Regions from separate parts of the Homo sapiens genome. Here region 2 is linked to region 1. A link means that fine-mapping ties the variant in region 1 to the expression of a gene that starts in the linked region. Tissue or cell type: whole blood. Region 1 holds a variant in brackets; the other region holds the start of a gene. All regions are shown on one strand. Distances are from middle to middle.

Region 1 (2,760 bases):
ATGAGTACTGGGTGGATGGCCCAGGCTAAAAGCTGAAGTGAATCATAGGAGAGAAAACTGTTGCCCTGCTAAGCCATTCCTATTGTGGCATCCATGACGCATATCCAGCAGAGGCCAACCAGTCATCTATCACCAACCCAAGGTGCCTTCAGTTTCTGATCCCAGTAATTGAGGACATGTGTTACTCTGCAAACAGTCCTGATGGGAAATGGGTGGTGGTTCTTCCCCTCTGATGCTTGGGAAATGAGAGGGCAAAGGAGGGGAGTAGAGAGGAGGCTGAACACTTTTATTTTTTTTTATGTTAACAGCTCTAAATGATTAAGGGTAGGAAGGGAATGGCAATAGAACATAAAAATGCTTTGTGTAGAGTTCACATTTACTCGCACTTTTAACTCCACTGTGGCTTATTAGTTCACGGGAAAAATTACAAAAGGAAATAAAAACCTGACTATGAATCCAGTATAAACAATTTGCAGCCATAGTAACCAAGAAAGTGCAACTCCTAGATTAAAAAAAAAAAAATGTCTGTGCAAGAGTGTCCATGCAGAGGATGTCAGGAAATGGTTACAGAGTGAAGAACTCAGTCAACCCCTGGTCAGTGAAGCAGAGCAGCTCTGAAGAGGCTGCGTGCATACCCTGCATACCCTGGCTAAGATGTACATCAGGAGTTGGCAAAGTTCTAATTCCTATTTGATAGAGTTTCCAACTCAGCTGTAAATATTCACTCAAGAATAAAACAACGTCAAAAGACTTTGCCTGACAAGAATTTGATTTTTGTTGTTGTTGTTTAAATCAACTTTGGTTTGCATGAGTTCAACCCAACTTCACTGCAGGAAGACAATAGGGTGTGCGGCTTCTTGTGTGTTTCCACATTAGCTTTGGAATGACTCGAAGCCGCCTTGTGAATTCAATTCTGGATAAAATACAGCAACTCAGGACTCAGAACCACACCCTATCTTTTCACCTTTGGGATATGAGTCATCAGCTTCTAATTTGTGTAGCCAGATCCTAGCAATGTATGGCCCCAGGATCTGAGAGGAAGTCCAAGCAAGTGCCAGTAGTTTTGGAGGTCCTGGGGCAATCACCCAAATGGGAATTGTGGGCACCTATCCCACCAAGCTATCAAATTTGAGAGTAAAAGCATCTTTAAGGATCATCTAATCCAATGAGCCA[T/C]ATGATGCCTGAATTCCCTCTTTTCCTCTTTGTGCCAGAGGACGTTCATCCCATGCTTGGAGCCCCACCCTTTGAGAAGGAGAGCTCCCCAAGGCAACTAATGCAGTGTGACTGCAAAATACTCTTTCTTAAAGAGTCTGTCTCTTTGTAAATTACAACACACAGTTCCTTAAAGCAAGTCAAATATTCATATATTCGAGAATGAATGGCTATTTTGTCCTCAGATTTCTCTAGTCTAAACCATAAGAATTCTTAACTATTCTGCATCTAGTTACTTCCCTCTGAACACCTCCGGAGGACCTCTTGAAGTTCAGTCCCTCATATGAACACAGCACTCAATGTATATTCTGTTCAGGGAGAGGAACCAACACCATTATCAGTTTCTTCATTCTGAGATTTTACTTCTATTGACTTTGTTTCCTATTTATCTGTTTCTTAAAGCCTGTGGTATTTTGAACTCATAATTAATTTACTTCCCACTAGAATTTTTGACTAGGCCACGCCCTTGGTCACCAATCACCAGTTCTGCTCTACTCTCTGAGCACATGGAAGTAGTACACTCCCCTGCCTCTTGAAGATAGCTATGGTCATTGTGACAGAATGCAAAATATATATTTTGTCTCTGCCCTTCTTTCCTGGAATACAGTTCCTAAAATCCTTAGAATCTCCCAAATGATAAGTGTATTTTGTATGCTAATGAGATGACTGGTGGCTGGGGTTCCTGGATGGCTTCAGGATAGGAACTGGTTGCTAAAAGAACCAACCATGTGATTAGAGGATTGGAACTTGGTTTCACACCCTCTGCCTTTCTGGGAGGGGCGAGGGGCTAGAGGTTGAGTTGATCATCAATGGCCAGTGATTTAATCAATCATGCCTATATCATGAAGCCTTCCTAAAAAAATTAAGCAAAGGGGTTTGAAGAGCTTCCAGGTTGGTGAACAAGAATGCATCCACATGCTGGGAAGATGGAGCACCCCAAATTCCATGGAGACAGAAACTTCTGTGCTCGGGATCCTTTAGTGGTGCATTCTTGTAGGACTGAGGCCTCAACCTGTGGGGTCGGCACCAACTCTGGGCAGATAGTGTCAGAAATGAGTTAAATTGTAGGACACCTAGTTGAAAATTGGAAAAATTGGTTGGTGTGAGAAAAATCCCCACAAATTTAGTGTTAGAAGTGTTGTGAGAATAGAGAAAAACAGTTTTTTAAATAGTCATGTTACCAGCTGTGGCCAATAGGAAATGAGTAGAGTATCACATGTCAGTTCCAGGTTCAGGCACTTAAGTGCTTATTCTCATCTTTCCAGGCATCTCTTTGCCCATCCTGACTATTGTCAACCCATGTGTTGATACAGAGTTGTCATAGATTGAATCAAGCTGGAATGCTGAGCCAACACATGGAGGACAGCAGCCCTAGCACGCTGCCCAGACATGCAGCACAATTTGCTTGAGTGAAAAATAAACTGTTATTGCATTGTGCACAAGATTTTGGGATTGCTTTTGCAGTATAACGCTTTTCCAAATCAATGTCTAAGTGTTTTTTCATGCAGGGTCAGATTTACCACTCACACATTCTCCCATACCTCCTTT
Region 2 (2,760 bases), 53 kb after region 1:
ATGCCAAAGATGAAAGCTAAAATTTTAAACACGAAAAAGGCAGAAATCCTATTTATAGCTAGTGTGTTCCTGTGATCTCTCCGGTGACTGTTTCTAGCTGTGGCAGCGGACGGCCGGCCCTTCCCAGCCTCCTCGCCGGCAGGTCCCCGCTCACCTGTACAGGTCGTAGCCCGCGGCGCGCGCGGAGCCCCGGGTGGGGGCCGTGGCGTGCTCGGAGAGCCGGGCAAAGCGGAGCTGCATGCCGCCCACCTCCGCAGGCCGGGCCCGCTTACTGGGTGAAATGGCGGGTGTCTCTTCAGAGCAGGGCATGGCAGAGCCAGAAGGCGAGCGAGGAGACCACCGGGGGAAGAGGAGAGCGCACGATGAGCGTCGCCGCAGGGAGCGCGCCAAAACCGAAATTTCCCGCCAGCCCCGCCCCACCCACCGCCCCTCCCCGGGACGAGTCCACAGTTCTGGCTGAGAGGGGAGGCGGGATTCACATTTTGGGTTTGAAGCCCTTCTCGGAAAGCAGGTTTGGGATGGGAAACTACTGGGTCCCAGTCAACTTTCCACATTCAGCGCGTGGGGCCAACTTTGAAGGGGAGCTTCTAGGGCGTCGCCCTCACACACTAGAAAGCCGCCCCCTCGCCAGGGGACCCTAATGGACCACCCCACCCCCCCCGCCCCCCGCGCGCAGAAGGACCGCTCGCCACCCTACTTCCCCCACAGCCTCAAGCCGCGTGGATTCCTTCCAGACGGCCGGAGCCCCTCCCCCGCCTTTCCTACCCGGCCCCGGCGCCGGGCTTCCCCCCGCCTTAGGAAGCTCGCCCTTCCAGCCAGCGGCCCCGACTGTACTGGCTCCGCGGCAGCCTTGGCTCAGGCGGCCAGCGCTGGACAGCGGCCGGGGAATCCCGTGCTGCGCGGCGCGGCCGAGGGGCGGGCCTGGCCCGGAGAGTACCGCGGCTTCGGCCCTCTGCCGTGCGCCTCGCGCGTTTTGCATCGCTGAGCGAAGCAGAGACGTAAGGAAATGGTAGCAGAGCGCGGGGCGAGGGCAGAGGGGAGTCATTTCCCCCAGAGTTTGGGCTGGTTGGGTCCTCGGCACCTCCGGACGTGCGCCAGGCTTCCACCCTGAAGACGCGCCCGTCCTGGGAACATGACCTCGGAAGCAGTCGCAGCCGCCGCCGGACGAGGGGCGTGGAGAGGCGGTGCCCCGGCAGCCCAGGGATGGCGCAGGCCCTGGGGCCCCAGGAAGACGGCGCCGTTGGCGTCTTGAGTCTTGCTGCCGCCTCTGGCTGCCTAGCCCTCTTGCTTTCGCTCTTCTTGTTTGCTCTGGCCCCCATTTTTCCGAGAGTGTACGCCAGGCCCGGGCCCTGCTCCTGGACTGATTTACCTGGGGCGGCACCGCCCGCAGCCATGACTCCCGGGCTCTGAGTTTAGCGGCGCCCTAAGCGCCGGAACCGCATCTCGGCGCCGGTGACAGTTATTGCGCCCGGGGCCGCTCCCCAAGCTGTGGGCAAGACACCGCGCCCGATTTCCTTTCAGCACCGAGTGTCAGACGTTGTAGTGTTTATTCGACCGGAGGCAGGGAGGGCGCTACTATCCTATCACAGGTTTGGGATAACCCAACAGAAACGCAGTGGGAACCCCTTGGCTAGGAGTCGAACAAGGATCCCGGGTCGTGGTAGTATAGTTTACAGTGGGGGATAAAGCAGTAACTTTCTAGATAGTTGTTAATAATTTTTTCTGAGCTGCAAGTATCTCCTTATTTCTCACAAAAATCTGCGAGCTGAATTGAATGGTTTTGAATTTTCAAAATTAAAAAAGCTGTGGGGCAGTTTTAGAGTATTATTGGGGAAATTTTACATTCGTTGCTATGCCTTTCCATACAGGCCCCCCCTTTTCGGTCTCCTTAACTGGTTCGTCTTCGTAGTTGGAATTCCTTTGCATGAGGCTATGGAATATACACTACCTTCTCTGGACGTTAACTATTAGCTACAGCTTGAGGACTCCCAAATTTATGCCTTTAGCAACACGATCCGAGCCCTGCAACTTTTCGACCTCATTTTGAGCCAACATTATTTTGCTCCCTTATTTTGTTGAAGTACTTTCTCCAGTTATTTACTTAAAATGTTCACATGAGAGACATACTATTTGATTCCTTGCTTGTACTAAGATGTAATGATTGTAACGACTTCATTTTCCTAGACCCAGATAAAAGTCTCGCTTCATTCATGAAACTTTTTACAATCAGTAGTGACCTCTGCCCCATCTTATCTCTTTTAACACTTACTATATCATTCATTAGTCGTTAGCCATATACTTTCATTGTGTAATCTTCTGATGTATATGCATTTTATCTCTCACATGAATTAGAGTCATAAACTTTTATGAATTCTTCAAAGCACTTACTTCAGTGTTTACACAAAAGTTACTTGTTTGGCTTATTACAATATCTAACACCAAGCAGGTTACCTTCTATTTTTTGTTGTTAATCTGTATACATAAAGTGTTTATTGTTACTTTTCAGCTGAGTTTATTTTAGACTAAAAGAGAAACGGCCATAATCTAACTGGCAAAAAGTAATAGGATTCTGAGCCAGTAAGCATTTAATAGAACGTTCTTTATGACAATAGAAATATAACTTGTTATGAACATACACCTTAAATGCAAGATACTGCAGTTAAGAACTAAACATGTTTCAACCATAATTTACTTCATAGTTTTTGTTTTTTTTTTTGAGACAGAGCCTTGCTGGAGTGCAATGGCTCGATCTCGGCTCAC

Evidence for each region. PIP is the estimated chance that this variant, and not a neighbour inherited with it, causes the effect.
Region 2: it holds the start of DUT, and the variant in region 1 is fine-mapped to the expression of DUT in whole blood (INTERVAL, PIP above 0.99).

The regions. Positions count from the first base shown.
Region 1 is chr15:48,383,009-48,385,768 of GRCh38, reverse strand. No RefSeq gene overlaps it. Among named protein-coding and RNA genes, the nearest start is that of DUT-AS1, 53 kb to the right of the region's middle. The variant T/C (reference allele first, on the strand shown) is at 1,174.
Region 2 is chr15:48,329,801-48,332,560 of GRCh38, reverse strand. DUT (deoxyuridine triphosphatase) reads right to left here and starts at 1,132. Exons shown (of 7, transcript NM_001025248.2): 1 at 766-1,132; 2 at 155-293. The coding sequence starts at 1,045. DUT-AS1 (DUT antisense RNA 1) reads left to right here and starts at 705. Exons shown (of 3, transcript NR_186809.1): 1 at 705-998. RefSeq lists enhancers at 355-649, 573-1,097, 1,098-1,624 and silencers at 355-649, 700-909.